2 linked regions of the Homo sapiens genome follow. The protein of the gene in region 1 purifies or fractionates together with the protein of each later gene. This does not show direct contact. Each region holds a gene or a part of one and is shown in the gene's direction. Other genes may lie near its edges.

The links.
Region 2: the proteins of AKAP5 (region 1) and PRKACB purify together in Homo sapiens (affinity purification with mass spectrometry; 5 studies listed by BioGRID and IntAct, with this or other methods). This does not show direct contact.

What each region holds. Positions count from the first base shown.
Region 1 is NC_000014.9:64,456,964-64,468,510, forward strand, and holds the start of AKAP5 (A-kinase anchor protein 5), read left to right. Parts: upstream 1-8,535; 5' UTR 8,536-8,650; intron 8,651-11,168; 5' UTR 11,169-11,431; coding exon 11,432-11,547. Other genes in the region: MTHFD1 (C-1-tetrahydrofolate synthase, cytoplasmic), read left to right, coding at 2,796-2,972. UniProt on the Homo sapiens protein: Multivalent scaffold protein that anchors the cAMP-dependent protein kinase/PKA to cytoskeletal and/or organelle-associated proteins, targeting the signal carried by cAMP to specific intracellular effectors.
Region 2 is NC_000001.11:84,228,621-84,239,797, forward strand, and holds the end of PRKACB (cAMP-dependent protein kinase catalytic subunit beta), read left to right. Parts: intron 1-6,559; coding exon 6,560-6,685; 3' UTR 6,686-9,878; downstream 9,879-11,177. UniProt on the Homo sapiens protein: Mediates cAMP-dependent signaling triggered by receptor binding to GPCRs.

The sequences.
Region 1 (11,547 bases):
AAATATACGGAGTTTTCACTTGCAAGCCGTACATATTTGCATCTAAGTAGAAATTTGTCAAAGCCGAGTCTTTAGAAAAGTAGTGAGTACAAATATAATTTGTAAGCATTACAAGTTTAGTTTTAGAAGGCCATTTTGGGCCAGTAAGAATGGTGATTATAAAACCATCTAGATTATGTACAAAAGTGTCTTGGCCCAAGTTAAAGGATACTAACTCCTACCATCGTGTTGCTGAAGCAAAAATCACATGGGCAGCTCAGCTAGCAAGACTGAACGAAACAAAATTTAAAAGCAGGCAAGCCCTGTACCTCCTTTTGGTCTTGCAAAGCGTGAGCTGAGGAGGCGAGTGAGCAACTCCTCTACTCCCCAGCACTCATTCTTGTAAGGTGAAGGTGGAAACACCTCCTGCTACTGCTTGTGACCACATGGAAGATGATAGTGAAGGCTGGCATTTGGTTTGCAGAAGGACATGAGGAATCAGTTTCTTTTCTTTTCCTTTTTTTTTTTTTTGAGATGGAGTCTTGCTCTGTCACCCAGGCTGGAGTGCAGTGGCAAGATCTCGGCTCACTGCAACCTCCGCCTCCCAGGTTCAAGCGATTCTCCTGCCTCAGCCTCCCAAGTAGCTGGGATTACAGGCACACGCCACCATGCCCAGCTAATTTTTGTATTTTTAGTAGAGATGGGGTTTCACCATGTTGGTCAGGCTGGTCTCAAATTCCTGACCTCAGGTGATCCATCTGCCTTGGCCTCCCAGAGTGCTAGGATTATAGGCATGAGCCACCACGCCCGGCAGGGATCAGTTTCTGAGTTTTTTAACAGGATCAGTGACTTGATTTTTAATATGTAACAAGAGTACCCACTTTATTGACAACTATAAAATGATGTTCTATCTTTATGCCTTGGGCTTTCTTTCTGAAGGAAAAGTGAAAGTAAAGATGACTTTACGTTTATTTTAGACATGGCCTTGCTCTGTCGCCCAGGCAATCGGATGATCATGGCTCACTGTGGCCTCAACCTCCTAGCCTCAAGCAATCCTCCTGCCTTAGCATCCCAAGTAGCTGGAACTACAGGCACATGCCATCATATCCAGCTAATTTTTTATTTCCTGTAGAGATGGGGGTCTCACTATGTTGCCCAGGGTGGTTTAGAACTCCTGGCCTCAAGTGATCCTCTCCACCTCAGCCTGGGATTATAGGCGTGAGCCACTGTGCCCAGCATTAGTTTATTTGTAATGCTTTTTTACATCCTAGATGAGCACAATGCCTGGACTCCCCACCCGGCCCTGTTTTTATGATATTGATTTGGACCCTGAAACAGAACAGGTGAATGGATTATTCTAAACAGGTAAGTTGTTACTGGGTAATAATTTGGCTTTTTTCCTCATGTAGCTTATTTATGAATTATAGGGCTCAAACTGACGCTATAAAAATTCACATTCTAATGCTTTCAAAACATTTCTTTTCAGACTTCCCTGAGGGGAGAGGGGATAGTAATGAGAGTTGGCAATAACCAATGAATTGAAATATTTATATTTCAACACATTTTTGGAAGAAGCGCAGCATGGCTTGTCACAGGTTGACAGTGTAGGGGAGAAAACTGCTGTCCAATAAACTACAGAGGAAACTACAGGAGAGGTTAGACTCCCTCTGCTGAAGCCCCAGGAGGCTTGGGGTTCAGAGTTGATGACACATTGCAGGTCAGGAACAGCTGACGGTCTGTATACTCTGAATAGGTAGTTAGAAGGCAAGAATTAGCAAATGTCTTAGGAAGTATAATAGAAAAGAGAAGGAAACAGGACCAATCTGGCAGTTCTTAGGGCCTTAGGTGAAAGGGCCCTGAGTACCGACTGCAATGAGTGACATTGCATTGTTTGATATTTTTGAAATTTCAACAGGACGTGTCTCTCCTTAGGCAGACCCTTGGGGCTGAAGCAGCAAGTTGCAGTGTGCACTTATATCCCTAGACACATCCTGTTGAAACTGCAAAAATATCAAACATGAAAATCCTAACATCTTTCTCCAGAGACGAAAAAAGTGGCTTGCCTATGAAAAGAATGAGAACTAGACTTAACGCCCGTCTTACTGGCAATAAGAAGCTTTTAGACAATGGAGGAGTGTCCTGTAAGGTCACAGGGAAGATGACTTTCAACATGTGCTCACACCTAGCCGAATCTATCTGGATATTTTCAGACGTGCAAGGGTTTGCCACCCCACATCTCTTCCTAAGAAGTTATTTAGCAATGTACTTAGCAAAATGAGGAATTAACCAAGAAAAAAGGAAGACGTGAGTTTTGGGAAACTGAACCCTCATTTGGACATTAGCGAAGGGGCATTCTGATAACCATGCAAATGACCTGAAGTTACAAATCCTGTGTGGAACAGGTTGGGGGAGCACCTGAGAAAAACTAGAAAAAGCTAGAAAAGACAAGGATATCAAAGGGTCATAGTATAAAACAAAAGCTCTTGCATTATTTGAGAAAGTTAAGGTCCAAGTAGAAGCAAACTGTAGTTTGATGCTAGAACACTATTCTTTGAGAGGGTATGTGTGATACTCGAAATGCAGTCATGGCTCACGGCTTGGTCTGGTCTTGAACAGTATTCACACAGTACTATGGAAATACCATGCATCATTTTCAAGTCCATTTATGGACACGCCCTAGAAGAGCTGGTGGCAGGAAAGGATGTAAATGTTAACAGCTTTGGCAATGTGAGTGGGTAATGGTGCAGTATGGAAGGAACAGGAAACATTTCAGTGCTTGCTTAGAGAAAACATTTATTTCTTGTTTTTCCTTCCAGATCACCATCCATCTTCAAGAAGCTACTTTGAAAGTCTGGCCAGTGTCTATTCAGGCCCACTGGGAGTTAGGAAGTATAAGTAAGCCAAGAGAAGTCAGCCCCTGCCCAGAAGATCTGAAACTAATAGTAGGAGTTTCCCCAGAAGTCATTTTCAGCCTTAATTCTCATCATGTATAAATTAACATAAATCATGCATGTCTGTTTACTTTAGTGACGTTCCACAGAATAAAAGGAAACAAGTTTGCCATCTTGGTGTTGCAATATGAATTACAGCCTTAACAGACTGTGCCACAGGTCTCTGCCATCCTTTGTGAGCTCATTTGTCAGGCAGACCCTTGGGCTGAAGATGCAAGTTGCAGTGTGCCCTTTATGATACTGTTGTGTTTAGAGGGAAATGTATGCATGCTTGTGTATTTCTGAGAGGACACATAATTCAGGGGACCTCCTGAGAGGGTTGGGTTGGAAGTTGATGACTTACCTTTTAATCTTATACCTTTCTATATTGTTGAATTTTGTTTTTCTACCCTGAGGAAGTATTGCTTATACAAGTTTTTGCCTGAACTTCCTTGGAATTCCCATTTCTGTCACAGCTTTAGCACTGTCTATGTTTAGAGTGCTCAAGAAGGATGGTCATGCAGCATTAGCCTTAGGTGAGCCTCTATTCTGTTGGTGCAGCAAGTATTCATTGAGTTTCTTCTAAATGCCTGGGCTCCACCCTTCCCTACAGACTTTTTATTTTTATTTTTATTTTTTTGAGACAGTGTCTCTGTCGCCCAGGCTGGAGTGCAGTGGCGCGATCTCAGCTCACTGCAACCTCCGTCTCCTGGGTTCAAGTGATTCTCCTGCCTCAGCCTCCCAAGTAGCTGGGATTATAGGCATGAGCCACCATACCTGGCCCAGACTTTCTTTTTCCTAAAACATTAGGTTGGTAAAAACCACAATTACTTTTGCACCAACCTAATATTTTTTTTCCTCCTCTTCTGGCTGGGCGTGGAGGTGGCTCATGCCTGTAATCCCAGCACTTTGGGAGGCCGAGGTGGGCGGATCACTTGAGGTCTGGGGTTCAAGACCAGCTTGGCCAACATGGTAAAACCCTGTTTCTACCAAAAATACAAAAATTAGCTGGGTGTGGTGGCAGGCACCTATAACCCCAGGTACTTGGGAGGCTGAGGTACGAGAATTGCTTGAACCCAGGAGGCAGAGGTTGCAGTGAGCCAGGATCATGCTGCTGCACTCCAGCCTGGGAGACAGAGCTAGACTCTGTCTAAAAAAATAAATCAAATATTTTTCCTTCTCTTCTTGTTCTTTATCTTCTATCTCTGTTCTTCCTCTCCCATTTGTTTCCTTCCCTTTTTCCCCTTGTCTCCCTCCACTGGATCCTTCCAGAGGATGCTGCATCCCACTGGCGCCAGTGCTAAACACTGCTGATGTTGGCAAAGCAGTATTTTTCCCAGTGACCTTGGTTTTATTATTTTTAATTCCCTAGGTCCATGTCAATGTTGTAATACAGTCAATTTTACAGTCCACAGAAATGATAGCGCTGCCTTGAGAGGCATATGGCAAAGGGGTCACAGTGCAGAGCCCCAGCTCTATGGCAGAGAGCCTCACCCACCTCCCTGCCTCCACATCCTCACCATGGAAATAGGAGCACTGTTGGTACCTACCTCGTGAGGGCGGTTCTGGAATTACTCAAACACATCATCTAAGATGCTTTGTACAGGGCCTGGCACATTGTAAGCACTTGTCAGTTCCTGTTGCACAGCATCCTCCAGGCCCTGTTTGCAGAGTTAATTGCTTCTGGTACTTTTTTTTTCCTTTTTTTTTTTTTTTTTTGGCAGGGGGGGTAGGGGGGTTGGGACAAGAGTCGTGCTCTTTTGCCCAGGCTGCAGTGTAGTGACGTGATCTCAGCTCACTGCAACCTCTGCCTCCCGGGTTCAAGCGATTCTCCCACCTCAGCCTCCCGAGTAGCTGGGATTACAGGTTCGCACCACCATGCCTGGCTAATTTTTTGTATTTTCAGTATAGATGGGGTTTTGCCATGTTGGCCAGGCTGGTCTCAAACTCCTGGCCTCAAGTGATCCTCCCACCTCGGCCTCCCAAAGTGCTGGGATTACAGGCGTGAGCCACTGTGCCCGACCGCTTTCTGGTACATTTCTTAATGTCCTGTGAAACTTCACCTGGAATGGGATTTGCTGGGAATTCATTTTGTAGACAAGGGAAGGATGCAGTCTTGTCAGATATGGTGACTTAAGGATCATCTTAAAGGATTTAGGTTTCCTAATATCGCCAACAGCCACATGGGTTTAAATCCTCAATACTGGTAGGGGCTGGGCATGGTAGCTCACACCTGTAATCCCACCACACTCAGCTGAGTTTTGAAGTTCTGTTTTTTGTAGAGATGGGGTCTCACTGTCTTGTCCAGGCTGCTGAGGCAGGAGGATCACTTGAGCCCAGGAGTTCAAGACTAACCTGGACAAGACAGACCCCATCTCTACAAAAAACAAAACCCCAAAACTCAGCTGAGTGTGTGGTGCACGCTTGTAGTCCTAGCTCCTTGGGAGTCTGATGTGAGAGGTTTGCTTGAGCCTAGGAGTTCGAGGCCGCAGTGAGCTATGACTGAGCCACCGCATTCCAGCCTGAGCAACAGAGCAAGACCCTGTGTCAAAATAAAAAAGACCTATAGAAGCATTAGTGCTTGGGGTAACTATTAGCATGTGCTGGCAGAGAAGGTCTAGTGCCTTTACCTTGGTGCTAAGAGTCCCTCCAGATTAGTGGCTTTCCCGTGCCCTTTCTCTTCTCTGGGCTGCTAATGCCTTCCTTCCCCTTATTAGTAATATTACTGATAAACAAATTGTACATTCTCTGATCTCACTTCAGAGGCTGTTTCTGTGCACTGAAGATGTACACACAGTCTTAATTCAAAAGAGATAGCATTTATGTGCTGCCACATTAAACAGATTGCAACAGTATTACTATTGAGTTTGTGTTGGCTCTGTGCAACCCTCATGGTGCCCAGGAACAGATGAAACCACCAGAGACTTGGAGCCTCAGGTTCATTCAATGGTGTCCCAGGGAACGGGGTTGGAGGGCTTATTCCCAGAAGGCCTCTGAAATGTAAGAGCTATTAACAAGGAGTTATAAGTCATTTTTGGTAGCTATAGGCCCAGGCAATGGGTAGAGATCAAGATGGGATAAATGGTAAGATCAGTAGAGTATTGCTCAGATAAATATGTAAGCTATTTTACTGGCACACTGTATCTAGTGATATTAACATGATAAGCTATAGGTAGGATAATTTCTCATCAGATTGCAGAAATACATTTATAGCCTATTTCCTGTTATATAATGAAAAGCTACTAATGGGGTAGTAGACAATGATATGGGTAATAGCTTAAACAGCCTTCGTTGTCACTTACCTGAATTCAGGAATGACAGGTTTCTTTCATGCATGAGGTACTGGATACATTAAACACACACACACACACACACACACACACACACATATGGCATTGAGTTCTAGTCATATCCTAAAGAAAAACTATGGTGCGCTATGTTATTTATAGTACTATACTCTGTGTGAGTGACTCTGTGTGTATGTGTGTTGGTGGAGGTCAGGGATGACTTGTTTGTAATATACCTTAAGGAAGTCTGTCCGAATTTGCCCTTCAAATACTAAATAAATTCATCTCTCACCTCAAACTGCCTTTCAGTTCCCTTTTACTAATTTTGTTTAAAAGAAAGGCAAGTGAAGGCCAGGCATGGGGGCTCACACCTGTAATCCTAGCACTGTAGGAGGTCAAGGCAGGAGGATCACTTGAGCTCAGGAGTTCAAGACCAGCCTGGGCAACATAGGGAGACGCCATCTCTACAAAAAAAAAAAAAAGAAGAAGAACCTGGGCATGTGGTCGCATACCTGTGGTCCCAGCTGCATGGGAGGCTGAGGTGGGAGGATTGCTTGAGCCAGGGATTGTACCACTGCACTCCAGCCTGAGCAAGACCCTGTCTCAAATAAAAATAAAAATAAGACAGCTATTTTACCCTGTCTTCACCTAAATAAGCTCATCTTATTTTTTGCCTGAAACTCTTGCAAACTCCCAGGTCTGCTAGTTTTGAGAAACCTTGGATCTCAATAAGGAATAGTTCTCAATTGCTTATAAGCATAATGGATTTCTTTTGGCTTAAAGTTCAAAACTGGCAACAAGCAGCGCTAGCAACCCATAGAGAGATACGCAGACCATTTCGATAGACGTGTTTGCTGAGTGAACAAGGCTGACTGAATTTTTTTTTTTTTTTGAGGCAGGGTCTCACTTTGTTGCCCAGGCTGGCGTGCAGTGGTGCAGTAGTGGCTCACAGCAGCCTTGACCTTCTGGGCCCAAGTGATCCTCCCTTCTCAGCCTCCTGAGCTCCTGAGTAACTGGGACCATACGTGCACCACCATGCCCAGCTAATTTTTTAGATTTTTTTGTCTCCCTATGTTGCCCAGGCTGGTCTCAAACTCTTGGACTCAAGCCATCCTCCTGCCTTGGCCTCCCAAAGTGCTGGGATTACAGGTGTGAGCTACTGCGCCCATCCCTGAATTCTTAATTACAACTAAACTAGATGCTTATGGATTTTCCTGTTTTACAACTCTTGCCTCTTTTATCTGTAATTTTAAGATCTTGACAGCTTATATTTGGCTTTGCTTTTGTGTCTCAAGAGTTCTTTCCTTGATAAGCCTCTGTGGAAACTACAGAATCTTACAAATATAAAACATTTCCGGAAAAAATACAAAAATGGACACCTGACATTTACACTCCCTAAGGTCGTGATCCTGTTGAAGAAAGGAGATGAACGCGGCTGCTTTTCAGTAGTTCTTCACTTCACCTTACCAGGTTCTTCATCTGGATGCTATGCTATGGGGGCCAGAGGAGGAGGCTGGGATTGTGATGGATCCTACTAGATTTTACAGCTGGAGCTCCCAGGAATGCCCTCATAGGGAATGTCCTGAAGGGAATCATGGGTAACTTGTAAGCTACCTCAACTTATTTTTGGAACTATGTAAGGTATAAGATGGATGGAGCTGGGTTCCTGTGCCTTTCTCACCTTGTCCGCATAGAGATGCAGCTGCTCCTGCAGGCCAAAGTTCTGCACCAATCACCTCCACCTGCTTCCCACTGGGAGACAAAGGTTTGAAAGCCTGTTTGGCGATGAACCACGATGATCTGACACTCAAGCCACTCCTGAGAAAGTCGGGTTTCTTTCTGTTTCCATTTATATATGTAATTTTCGCTTCAAACAAACATGACCTCGCTATTCTATGCACAGTTTTGAATCCTGCTTTTAAAATGCGATGTCTGCCTTGTCTTTAAATATTCTGAGGGGGAGGAGAGGAGATGTGTAATGCGACTGTCTATAATTTGAAACCGGACCTCACTATTTAGCGTCTCAGAAAACGCGGGGTTCATTGCCCTGGTCCCCCCCGCCTTCCCCCGCCCCCCGAACCTTCCGGCTGGCTCTCTTGCGGTCCCCGCCTCGGCGCTGATGTGGTCTGGCAGTGGAGATTGGCGCCCGGGCGGAGCACGATGGGCTTCCCCGCGGCAGGCAGGCAGGCTGCTGCTGCAGGTGGGTCCCGGCGCCCGCGCCGCCCCGCGCCTCCGGCGGTCGCCCCGCCCCTGCCCGCCCGCTCCGCTCCGCTCGCATTGGCGCTGCCTGCTGTCTGTCCCCGCGCGGTGGGGAGGGGGCGCACCCGGCGGCGGGCTCTGCAGAGGGCGCCTTGCTCCGGGTGCGACCGCGGCTCCCTGGAGGCCTGGGCGGCGGGCCCCGCGAGCGCGCCGCCACCTCGGGAGCAGTGTTGGCCAAGGACCCCGACGCCCTACGTAAGTAAAGGCAGGGCGGGGAGCCTGCGGGGGAGGAGGGTCGGGGGCAATGTCCGGTCCGCGGACCGCGGAGTGGGCAAGAGGTGCCCACTGGATACGGGGTATCCGAGCCCTCTGAGGTGCTGGGAGTAAGAACGCGGGAGGTCGCTTGTCCGCTGGAATCCGCGGCCAGGGCGACCCTCATCAGGTCTGCCCACCTATCCCCTTCGCGTTACAGCTTGTCTTAGAAGCATGGGTTGCCGGTGGCTTTTTTCCTTCTTTATCCCTCTTTGAGAAATGTGATTTTGGGTTTCTGGCCATTACATTATAATTCTGCAGACAGCCTGAAGCTGGGTTATCTGTTCCACGCCCCCGGCATTTTCCTTTTTGAGTACTTTATCCTGCGCTCTGTCTCCTGCCATAAGGGGCGTCAAGCCAGAATTCGAGATTCCTTCCTCCAGGAGGAAGCTTCGTGGTCCGTATCTGGTGCTGGGAAAGATGCATTGCTTTCCTCGGGTACTGGCTGCTCAAGGGAAAAAGGAAAGGGGGTGTTTTCTGTGACATGAGACTTGCAATTCCATCAGGAAATGAGCACAGGGACTTTAAGATTTCCTGAGGCGATAAAGCTACCCTTGCTGGTTAAGAGCGAATCATTTGCAGTCTGACATTCTGCAAAGTTTTATTGTCTACAGACTGCATTATTTTCCCTCGTTAGTTAAGTTTCTGTTTGGGTATTCGTTTTATTTCTAGTATGTGAGATACATTCAAGTGAGCTTCTCAAACGATTGTCTTTGCGCAATCCAGGTTAGTTTCCAATGACAGACTCCTAAACATCTCATTTCAATATTTCTATTATGTGGTAATACAGCCTCTGCTTAACAAAAATGCTCAGGTGCTGAAAACTCACAAGAGGTGAGAAGATTTAAACAGTTATCAGCTTAGGTTCTAGTGCTCACTGAAACATTGTGAGGAGAAACACTGTCAAATGTTCATATTTTAGTTCCGTCATTGTTCTAGAATGACTTTATCTTTCTGTTAGAGGCACACAGTATGAAACACCCAACCTAAGATAATATTTACTTAGATCATAAACTGATTTTCAGGGTTCCAGTTCCTTCTACAGTTCATAAAATTATGGGTTACCCAAATGAAACTTCAGTGAAGGATTTACATAAAAACAATATAAAGAATGAGTCCCTTTGCTTATTTTAGGGCATCCACCCACTAAAATTCATAGGATCTTTGTTGGATAATCACCTCCCATTTCCATTCTTTGGTGCCATCATACCATTCTAAGGATTAAATTTTCAATACACCTTTATATTATCTAAGTTTGCCAATTGCATAGTTTGCCAACTTATTTTTGGCTTTTAAATTAGTTCCTGAACCAAAAAAATAAAATATAAAGAATTTCAAAAGCTTGGTTTTCAAATGACAAGAACTCAGTCTACTCGTGGTTCAATTATGAGTTGATAAGTGCCTTATGGTTAAATGACCATTAATCAATTTTTTAATTTTTTTACTAATGAAACACTGCAGATTAGTATCCCCAAACAATTCATTTTCTGACGAAACTCTTAAAGCCCAGTTTCAGAACATAAGCTTTAAGCAACAAGCAATCTTGTGTTAATCTGAGCTCTGTTACAGCTCTGCCGTAATCTCAGCCAAATTGCTTCATCTGTACGTGGTGATACCACCATCTTTGTAATATTGTGGTGAGGATTAGAGATGTATGTAAAAGTGCATGCACTGCCTAATACCCAAGAATTGCTCAATAAATGTCAGCTATTACTACTCTTACTGACTTCCAACTATGTGCAGATTATGGTGGAAACATGTGATACAGCAGATACAGTACTTAAATGAAAATGTCAAAATTGTACAACTAATTTAAGAGTGGGAAATGACAGTAATGCTAAATTTTCCTAAGAATATGTATGAAAAATAGCACTTCCTTGATGGAACATACATTTTTAGAACAGAAACCTTATGTTATAATGGTAAAACTAGAGAGTCAAAGTCTCTAGTTCTAACTCTGGCTATGACCTTATCTAGTTGCATGGCTTTTGACAAGACAACTGCTCCCCTCTGGAGTTCAGTTTTGTCATCTGGCTGGATTTGAGTAATCTCAAATAATCTCTAAAGTCCTTTGCAGCTTTAAAATTATCTATTGAGTGTGATAAAGATTACATCAGCTTGCTTTTCATCCTGCACTTCATTTTTGGTTCTTGTTGTTTGCTTAACTTGCACTTTAGAGTCATAAGCAATTCACACAGACAACACAACTAAAGAACTGATAATATCAGACTTGCAGGGTAATCCAAAATGAAGTTTCAACAAGGAGGATAAAACAAAATAGAATCACACTGAACTCTTTAATAGGGCCAAAGTAAACCCCAATGTTTATTCTCCAGTCATTTCATTAAGTTATTATATGGAAAATATGCCTGGTAGAATCTTATACATTCACTGAAATAGTCTCCACAGAAAATAATAGGCTCATAGTGAAATAAAATACCACTTTCTTTTCTCTCATCAGGTTGATCTTTAAATAAAGCAAAAATTTATCCAAAGAAGGGCTTTCATCAAGAAATTAAAGAGAGAAATTACAAGCCATAGAGAAACTGGGCATTTCTATACTAGAGAAACCACCTAAAACAACTGTATGGAGTAAGATGAAAGGTATGAATATGCCTGGAAGAAATTTTACCTAGTGTGACATTTTTGCTCATCTTTTTGTCACAAAAGGCTGCTAAGGAAGAGAGAATACAGTTTTCTAGAGAATAAGAGTGCAGTGTAAAAATGGAAACCACAATTTCAGAAATTCATGTAGAAAACAAGGATGAGAAGAGATCAGCAGAAGGTAGTCCTGGGGCTGAAAGGCAGAAGGAAAAGGCATCCATGCTTTGCTTCAAGAG
Region 2 (11,177 bases), on another chromosome or scaffold:
TTAGGATCAAAGGAGAAAAATGTTTAAGGTTTAACAATTCTCTAATTCTAAAAGAGTTATATTTCTTTCCAAACTCTCAGAAAGTTTTGATGGCCAGATATTTTAAACAAAATAAACTTGGGAATTAAAAAAGGAAAGCAATTAAAAGTAAGTCTGAGATTTAGCTGTAACTTGAGGAGAAAAGAATTTTTACAAGAGGGATAGGAAAAGATAAGGTCTTAAAAACAAGGAACTAAAAATTAAGACTGAAGTTTTGTAACCTTAGGAGCCAGGATTTTGATGCCAACAGTTAATTATCCCAGAAATTTCTTTTTTTTTTTATTATTATACTTTACGTTTTAGGGTACATGTGCACAATGTGCAGGTTAGTTACATATGTATACATGTGCCATGCTGGTGCGCTGCACCCACTAACTCGTCATCTAGCATTAGGTATATCTCCCAATGCTATCCCTCCCCCCTCCCCCCACCCCGTAACAGTCCCCAGAGTATGATGTTCCCCTTCCTGTGTCCATGTGTTCTCATTGTTCAGTTCCCACCTATGAGTGAGAATATGCAGTGTTTGGTTTTTTGTTCTTGCGATAGTTTACTGAGAATGATGATTTCCAATTTCATCCATGTCCCTACGAAGGACATGAACTCATCATTTTTTATGGCTGCATAGTATTCCATGGTGTATATGTGCCACATTTTCTTAATTCAGTCTATCTTTGTTGGACATTTGGGTTGGTTCCAAGTCTTTGCTATTGTGAATAATGCCGCAATAAACATACGTGTGCATGTGTCTTTATAGCAGCATGATTTATAGTCCTTTGGGTATATACCCAGTAATGGGATGGCTGGGTCAAATGGTATTTCTAGTTCTAGATCCCTGAGGAATCGCCACACTGACTTCCACAATGGTTGAACTAGTTTACAGTCCCACCAACAGTGTAAAAGTGTTCCTATTTCTCCACATCCTCTCCAGCACCTGTTATTTCCTGACTTTTTAATGTTTGCCATTCTAACTGGTGTGAGATGATATCTCATTGTGGTTTTGATTTGCATTTCTCTGATGGCCAGTGATGGTGAGCATTTTTTCATGTGTTTTTTGGCTGCATAAATGTCTTCTTTTGAGAAGTGTCTGTTCATGTCCTTTGCCCACTTTTTGATGGGGTTGTTTATTTTTTTCTTGTAAATTTGTTTGAGTTCATTGTAGATTCTGGATATTAGCCCTTTGTCAGATGAGTAGGTTGCAAGAATTTTCTCCCATTTTGTAGGTTGCCTGTTCACTCTGATGGTAGTTTCTTTTGATGTGCAGAAGCTCTTTAGTTTAATTAGATCCCATTTGTCAATTTTGGCTTTTGTTGCCATTGCTTTTGGTGTTTTAGACATGAAGTCCTTGCCCATGCCTATGTCCTGAATGGTAATGCCTAGGTTTTCTTCTAGGGTTTTTATGGTTTTAGGTCTAACGTTTAAGTCTTTAACCCATCTTGAATTGATTTTTGTATAAGGTGTAAGGAAGGGATCCAGTTTCAGCTTTCCACATATGGCTAGCCAGTTTTCCCAGCACCATTTATTAAATAGGGAATCCTTTCCCCATTGCTTGTTTTTCTCAGGTTTGTCAAAGATCAGATAGTTGTAGATATGTGGCATTATTTCTGAGGGCTCTGTTCTGTTCCATTGATCTATATCTCTGTTTTGGTACCAGTAACATGCTGTGTTGGTTACTGTAGCCATGTAGTATAGTTTGAAGTCAGGTAGTGAGATGCCTCCAGCTTTGTTCTTTTGGCTTAGGATTGATTTGGCGATGCGGGCTCTTTTTTGGTTCCATATGAACTTTAAAGTAGTTTTTCCAATTCTGTGAAGAAAGTCATTGGTAGCTTGATGGGGATGGCATTGAATCTATAAATTACCTTGGGCAGTATGGCCATTTTCATGATACTGATTCTTCCTACCCATGAGCATGGAATGTTCTTCCATTTGTTTGTATCTTCTTTTATTTCCTTGAGCAGTGGTTTGTAGTTCTCCTTGAAGAGGTCCTTCACATCCCTTGTAAGTTGGATTCCTAGGTATTTTATTCTCTTTGAAGCAATTGTGAATGGGAGTTCACTCATGATTTGGCTCTCTGTTTGTCTGTTGTTGGTGTATAAGAATGCCTGTGATTTTTGTACATTGATTTTGTATCCTGAGACTTTGCTGAAGTTGCTTATCAGCTTAAGGAGATTTTGGGCTGAGACAATGGGGTTTTCTAGATATACAATCATGTCTGCAAACAGGGACAATTTGACTTCCTCTTTTCCTAATTGAATACCCTTTATTTCCTTCTCCTGCCTAATTGCCCTGGCCAGAACTTCCAACACTATGTTGAATAGGAGTGGTGAGAGAGGGCATCCCTGTCTTGTGCCAGTTTTCAAAGGGAATGCTTCCAGTTTTTGCCCATTCAGTATGATATTGGCTGTGGGTTTGTCATAGATAGCTCTTATTATTTTGAAATACGTCCCATCAATACCTAATTTATTGAGAGTTTTTAGCGTGTTGAATTTTGTCAAAGGCCTTTTCTGCATCTATTGAGATAATCATGTGGTTTTTTCTTTGGTTCTGTTTATATGCTGGATTACATTTATTGATTTCCATATATTGAACCAGCCTTGCATCCCAGGGATGAAGCCCACTTGATCATGGTGGATAAGCTTTTGGATGTGCTGCTGGATTTGGTTTGCCAGTATTTTATTGAGGATTTTTGCATCAATGTTCATCAAGGATATTGGACTAAAATTCTCTTTTTTGGTTGTGTCTCTGCCTGGCTTTGGTATCAGGATGATGCTGGCCTCATAAAATGAGTTAGGGAGGATTCCCTCTTTTTCTATTGATTGGAATAGTTTCAGAAGGAATGGTACCAATTCATCCTTGTACCTCTGGTAGAATTCGGCTGTGAATCCATCTGGTCCTGGACTCTTTTTGGTTGGTAAGCTATTGATTATTGCCACAATTTCAGATCCTGTTATTGGTCTATTCAGAGATTCAACTTCTTCCTGGTTTAGTCTTCAGAGAGTGTATGTGTCGAGGAATTTATCCATTTCTTCTAGATTTTCTAGTTTATTTGCGTAGAGGTGTTTGTAGTATTCTCTGATGGTAGTTTGTATTTCTGTGGGATTGGTGGTGATATCCCCTTTATCATTTTTTATTGCGTCTATTTGATTCTTCTCTCTTTTTTCTTTATTAGTCTTGCTAGCAGTCTATCAATTTTGTTGATCCTTTCAAAAAACCAGCTCCTGGATTCATTAATTTTTTGAAGGGTTTTTTGTGTCTCTATTTCCTTCAGTTCTGCTCTGATTTTAGTTATTTCTTGCCTTCTGCTAGCTTTTGAATGTGTTTGCTCTTGCTTTTCTAGTTCTTTTAATTGTGATGTTAGGGTGTCAATTTTGGATCTTTCCTGCTTTCTCTTGTGGGCATTTAGTGCCATAAATTTCCCTCCACACACTGCTTTGAATGTGTCCCAGAGATTCTGGTATGTTGTGTGTTTGCTCTCGTTGGTTTCAAAGAACATCTTTATTTCTGCCTTCATTTCGTTATGTACCCAGTAGTCATTCAGGAGCAGGTTGTTCAGTTTCCATGTAGTTGAGCGGTTTTGAGTGAGATTCTTAATCCTGAGTTCTAGTTTGATTGCACTGTGGTCTGAGAGATAGTTTGTTATAATTTCTGTTCTTTTACATTTGCTGAGGAGAGCTTTACTTCCAACTCTGTGGTCAATATTGGAATAGGTGTGGTGTGGTGCTGAAAAAAATGTATATTCTGTTGATTTGGGGTAGAGAGTTCTGTAGATGTCTATTAGGTCCACTTGGTGCAGAGCTGAGTTCAATTCCTTGTTGACTTTCTGTCTCATTGATCTGTCTAATGTTGACAGTGGGGTGTTAAAGTCTCCCATTATTAATGTGTGGGAGTCTAAGTCTTTTTGTAGGTCACTCAGGACTTGCTTTATGAATCTGGGTGCTCCTGTATTGGGTGCATATATATTTAGGATAGTTAGCTCTTCTTGTTGAATTGATCCCTTTACCATTATGTAATGGCCTTTTTTGACTCTTTTGATCTTTGTTGGTTTAAAGTCTGTTTTATCAGAGACTAGGATTGCAACCCCTGCCTTTTTTTGTTTTCCATTTGCTTGGTAGATCTTCCTCCATCCTTTTATTTTGAGCCTATGTGTGTCTCTGCATGTGAGATGGGTTTCCTGAATACAGCATACTGATGGGTCTTGACTCTTTATCCAATTTGCCAAGTCTGTGTCTTTTAATTGGAGAATTTAGTCCATTTACATTTAAAGTTAATATTGTTATGTGTGAATTTGATCCTGTCATTATGATGTTAGCTTGTTATTTTGCTCGTTAGTTGATGCAGTTTCTTCATAGTCTCGATGGTCTTTACATTTTGGCATGATTTTGCAGCAACTGGTACCGGTTGTTCCTTTCCATGTTTAGCACTTCCTTCAGGAGCTCTTTTAGGGCAGGCCTGGTGGTGACAAAGTCTCTCAACATTTGCTTGTCTGTAAAGTATTTTATTTCTCCTTCACTTATGAAGCTTAGTTTGGCTGGATATGAGATTCTGGGTTGAAAATTCTCTTCTTTAAGAATGTTGAATATTGGCACCCACTCTCTTCTGGCTTGTAGAGTTTCTGCCGAGAGATCCGCTGTTAGTCTGATGGGCTTCCCTTTGAGGGTAACCTGACCTTTCTCTCTGGCTGCCCTTAACATTTTTTCCTTCATTTCAACTTTGGTGAATCTGACAATTATGTGTCTTGGAGTTGCTCTTCTCGAGGAGTATCTTTGTGGCGTTCTCTGTATTTCCTGAATCTGAATGTTGGCCTGCCTTGCTAGATTGGGGAAGTTCTCCTGGATAATATCCTGCAGAGTGTTTTCCAACTTGGTTCCATTCTCCCCATCACTTTCAGGTACACCAATCAGACGTAGATTTGGTCTTTTCACATAGTCCCATATTTCTTGGAGGCTTTGCTCGTTTCTTTTTATTCTTTTTTCTCTAAACTTCCCTTCTCGCTTCATTTCATTCATTTCATCTTCCATTGCTGATACCCTTTCTTCCAGTTGATCGCATCGGCTCCTGAGGCTTCTGCATTCTTCACGTAGTTCTCGAGCCTTGGTTTTCAGCTCCATCAGCTCCTTTAAGCACTTCTCTGTATTGGTTATTCTAGTTATACATTCTTCTAAATTTTTTTCAAAGTTTTCAACTTCTTTGCCTTTGGTTTGAATGTCCTCCCGTAGCTCAGAGTAATTTGATCGTCTGAAGCCTTCTTCTCTCAGCTCGTCAAAGTCATTCTCCGTCCAGCTTTGTTCCGTTGCTGGTGAGGAACTGCGTTCCTTTGGAGGAGGAGAGGCGCTCTGCTTTTTAGAGTTTCCAGTTTTTCTGCTCTGTTTTTTCCCCATCTTTGTGGTTTTATCTACTTTTGGTCTTTGATGATGGTGATGTACAGATGGGTTTTTGGTGTGGATGTCCTTTCTGTTTGTTAGTTTTCCTTCTAACAGACAGGACCCTCAGCTGCAGGTCTGTTGGAGTACCTGGCCCTATGAGGTGTCAGTGTTCCCCTGCTGGGGGGTGCCTCCCAGTTAGGCTGCTCAGGGGTCAGGGGTCAGGGACCCACTTGAGGAAGCAGTCTGCCCGTTCTCAGATCTCCAGCTGTGTGCTGGGAGAACCACTGCTCTCTTCAAAGCTGTCAGACAGGGACATTTAAGTCTGCAGAGGTTACTGCTGTCTTTTTGTTTGTCTGTGCCCTGCCCCCAGAGGTGGAGCTTACAGAGGCAGGCAGGCCTCCTTGAGCTGTGGTGGGCTCCACCCAGTTCGAGCTTCCCAGCTGCTTTGTTTACCTAAGCAAGCCTGGGCAATGGCGGGCGCCCCTCCCCCAGCCTCACTGCCACCTTGCAGTTTGATCTCAGACTGCTGTGCTAGCAATCAGCGAGACTCCGTGGGCGTAGGTCCCTCCAAGCCAGGTGCAGGATATAATCTCCTGGTGCGCCGTTTTTTAAGCCCGTGGGAAAAGCGCAGTATTCGGGTGGGAGTGACCTGATTTTCCAGGTGCCGTCTGTCACCCCTTTCTTTGACTAGGAAAGGGAACTCCCTGACCCCTTGCGCTTCCTGAGTGAGGCAATGCCTTGCCCTGCTTCGGCTCGCACACGGTGCGTGCACCCACTGACCTGCGCCCACTGTCTGGCACTCCCTAGTGAGATGAACCTGGTACCTCAGATGGAAATGCAGAAATCACCCGTCTTCTGTGTCCCTCACGCTGGGAGCTGTAGACCGTACCTGTTCCTATTCGGCCATCTTGGCTTCTCCTCTTATCCCAGAAATTTCTTAAGTATTTTGTTGACCTGCATACTTCCTTGAATCAAAATGTTGAGGTTAATAGCTAACCTACTGCTTGCTGCTTCTTCTAGCACTATTATATTTTAGGAACCTAATGGCATCTAAGGATTTCACCGTGTAATAACAGTGGGAATTTATTTTTCTTGGTGTTTGGAAACTCTCAGGAATTTTTTTTTCCTTTTTCTTATTTTTCTCTCCCTCTCAATTATAGGTTGAAGCTCCATTCATACCAAAGTTTAGAGGCTCTGGAGATACCAGCAACTTTGATGACTATGAAGAAGAAGATATCCGTGTCTCTATAACAGAAAAATGTGCAAAAGAATTTGGTGAATTTTAAAGAGGAACAAGATGACATCTGAGCTCACACTCAGTGTTTGCACTCTGTTGAGAGATAAGGTAGAGCTGAGACCGTCCTTGTTGAAGCAGTTACCTAGTTCCTTCATTCCAACGACTGAGTGAGGTCTTTATTGCCATCATCCCGTGTGCGCACTCTGCATCCACCTATGTAACAAGGCACCGCTAAGCAAGCATTGTCTGTGCCATAACACAGTACTAGACCACTTTCTTACTTCTCTTTGGGTTGTCTTTCTCCTCTCCTATATCCATTTCTTCCTTTTCCAATTTCATTGGTTTTCTCTAAACAGTGCTCCATTTTATTTTGTTGGTGTTTCAGATGGGCAGTGTTATGGCTACGTGATATTTGAAGGGAAGGATAAGTGTTGCTTTCAGTAGTTATTGCCAATATTGTTGTTGGTCAATGGCTTGAAGATAAACTTTCTAATAATTATTATTTCTTTGAGTAGCTCAGACTTGGTTTTGCCAAAACTCTTGGTAATTTTTGAAGATAGACTGTCTTATCACCAAGGAAATTTATACAAATTAAGACTAACTTTCTTGGAATTCACTATTCTGGCAATAAATTTTGGTAGACTAATACAGTACAGCTAGACCCAGAAATTTGGAAGGCTGTAGATCAGAGGTTCTAGTTCCCTTTCCCTCCTTTTATATCCTCCTCTCCTTGAGTAATGAAGTGACCAGCCTGTGTAGTGTGACAAACGTGTCTCATTCAGCAGGAAAAACTAATGATATGGATCATCACCCAGATTCTCTCACTTGGTACCAGCATTTCTGTAGGTATTAGAGAAGAGTTCTAAGTTTTCTAAACCTTAACTGTTCCTTAAGGATTTTAGCCAGTATTTTAATAGAACATGATTAATGAAAGTGACAAATTTTAAATTTTCTCTAATAGTCCTCATCATAAACTTTTTAAAGGAAAATAAGCAAACTAAAAAGAACATTGGTTTAGATAAATACTTATACTTTGCAAAGTCAAAAATGGCTTGATTTTTGGAAACAATATAGAGGTATTCATATTTAAATGAGGGTTTACATTTGTTTTGTTTTGTAACCGTTAAAAAGAAGTTGTTTCCAGCTAATTATTGTGGTGTACTATATTTGTGAGCCTAGGGTAGGGGCACTGCTGCAACTTCTGCTTTCATCCCATGCCTCATCAATGAGGAAAGGGAACAAAGTGTATAAAACTGCCACAATTGTATTTTAATTTTGAGGTATGATATTTTCAGATATTTCATAATTTCTAACCTCTGTTCTCTCAGTAAACAGAATGTCTGATCGATCATGCAGATACAATGTTGGTATTTGAGAGGTTAGTTTTTTTCCTACACTTTTTTTTGCCAACTGACTTAACAACATTGCTGTCAGGTGGAAATTTCAAGCACTTTTGCACATTTAGTTCAGTGTTTGTTGAGAATCCATGGCTTAACCCACTTGTTTTGCTATTTTTTTCTTTGCTTTTAATTTTCCCCATCTGATTTTATCTCTGCGTTTCAGTGACCTACCTTAAAACAACACACGAGAAGAGTTAAACTGGGTTCATTTTAATGATCAATTTACCTGCATATAAAATTTATTTTTAATCAAGCTGATCTTAATGTATATAATCATTCTATTTGCTTTATTATCGGTGCAGGTAGGTCATTAACACCACTTCTTTTCATCTGTACCACACCCTGGTGAAACCTTTGAAGACATAAAAAAAACCTGTCTGAGATGTTCTTTCTACCAATCTATATGTCTTTCGGTTATCAAGTGTTTCTGCATGGTAATGTCATGTAAATGCTGATATTGATTTCACTGGTCCATCTATATTTAAAACGTGCAAGAAAAAAATAAAATACTCTGCTCTAGCAAGTTTTGTGTAACAAAGGCATATCGTCATGTTAATAAATTTAAAACATCATTCGTATAAAATATTTTAATTTTCTTGTATTTCATTTAGACCCAAGAACATGCTGACCAATGTGTTCTATATGTAAACTACAAATTCTATGGTAGCTTTGTTGTATATTATTGTAAAATTATTTTAATAAGTCATGGGGATGACAATTTGATTATTACAATTTAGTTTTCAGTAATCAAAAAGATTTCTATGAATTCTAAAAAATATTTTTTTCTATGAAATTACTAGTGCCCAGCTGTAGAATCTACCTTAGGTAGATGATCCCTAGACATACGTTGGTTTTGAGGGCTATTCAGCCATTCCATTTTACTCTCTATTTAAAGGCCGTGAGCAAGCTTGTCATGAGCAAATATGTCAAGGGAGTCAATTTCTGACCAATCAAGTACACTAAATTAGAATATTTTTAAAGTATGTAACATTCCCAGTTTCAGCCACAATTTAGCCAAGAATAAGATAAAAACTTGAATAAGAAGTAAGTAGCATAAATCAGTATTTAACCTAAAATTACATATTTGAAACAGAAGATATTATGTTATGCTCAGTAAATAATTAAGAGATGGCATTGTGTAAGAAGGAGCCCTAGACTGAAAGTCAAGACATCTGAATTTCAGGCTGGAAAACTATCAGTATGATCTCAGCCTCAGTTCTCTTGTCTGTAAAATGGAAGAACTGGATTAGGCAGTTTGTAAGATTCCTCCTAACTTTCACAGTCGATGACAAGATTGTCTTTTTATCTGATATTTTGAAGGGTATATTGCTTTGAAGTAAGTCTCAATAAGGCAATATATTTTAGGGCATCTTTCTTCTTATCTCTGACAGTGTTCTTAAAATTATTTGAATATCATAAGAGCCTTGGTGTCTGTCCTAATTCCTTTCTCACTCACCGATGCTGAATACCCAGTTGAATCAAACTGTCAACCTACCAAAAACGATATTGTGGCTTATGGGTATTGCTGTCTCATTCTTGGTATATTCTTGTGTTAACTGCCCATTGGCCTGAAAATACTCATTGTAAGCCTGAAAAAAAAAATCTTTCCCACTGTTTTTTCTGCTTGTTGTAAGAATCAAATGAAATAATGTATGTGAAAGCACCTTGTAAACTGTAACCTATCAATGTAAAATGTTAAGGTGTGTTGTTATTTCATTAATTACTTCTTTGTTTAGAATGGAATTTCCTATGCACTACTGTAGCTAGGAAATGCTGAAAACAACTGTGTTTTTTAATTAATCAATAACTGCAAAATTAAAGTACCTTCAATGGATAAGACAATTGATTGAGTCGTGAATTCTACTTGGTGCCCTCATCTCCTGATTTATTTTCCGCTGATACAAGAGATGCTTATAGATTCCTAGTTTTTATGTGTTTGGGTTGATTTCTGGGTGGTGGGAGCAGAGCACATTGGGGAGGAATATATCCGCCAGTCTACTCACACTGGATGTTTACTAAGAAACTGCTAGATTCATTTAATAGTTTCTCAAAAGTGTTTCTACTTCTTTCTCATTTCTCATATTGGTTCAGATTACTGCTAACATAATGTTCTAAATATTCATATTTAAAGGATTTGATTCTTCAAGAGCACTCATCCTTCTATTGTAACAATGAAATATTAATTTCTAATTTTTTCTTCAGGAGTGTTTTTGAGCTTCACATTACCTCTTTTCATTTTAGACAGGTTAATTAGTGTGTATTTCCATAGTTGTCTTTTACCTCAAGAAATAATCATTTCTTTAGGTAATTATTTTAATGGCTTGCCATTTTGTATGATTGTTCTTGCAAACATTTCTATTTATGCATTTTATAACATGGAGCTTACTATTTTTATACCAGTGCTCGCTTCATTTTATCATTATCAGGGCTTAATATAAATGCAGTTTTCTCATTTCCTTGTAAAACTAATTACAAAAATCTAGGTATGTCTTTACTGAAGAACTATCATCATTTGAAATCTATTTAGCTGTAAATTTTCTCTTGTGCACAAATACTGGATGTGAAGTTAAGTACTTTTCATTTAAGCTTTCCTGAAGATTTTCCATATGCTTATTTAATAGCCTTTATGCCTGTTGTTATGACCTGGATTGTGAACTGTGAACAAAATTCATACTGAAATTCTAACCACTAGTACCTCAGCATGTGATTGTTTTAGGAGGTAAGGCCTTTGAAGAGGTAATTAAAGTAAAATGAGGTCATATGGGAAGACTTCATCCAAGATGACTGATGTCCTCATAAGAAGCACACAGACAAAGGGAGGACCACGTAAAGACATAGGAAGAAGATGACCATCTATAGGGCAAGGACAGAGGCCTCCAAAGAAGCTGACTTTGCCAACATCTTGACTTGGGACTTCTAGACTCAAGAATTGTGAAAAATAAATTTCAGTTGTTTAAGCTGCCCAGTCTGTGATACTTCATCATGGCAGCCATAACAAACTATAATACACCCGCTGAGCTAAGTATTCTCATGGTGAAAGACTTGCATTGATTTCCCTTCATATGCTTTATACGTGGGCAAAACTGAATTTACCACAGGCAAAAAAAAAAATCAGTGTGGTCACAAACCTCAGTGCACCTG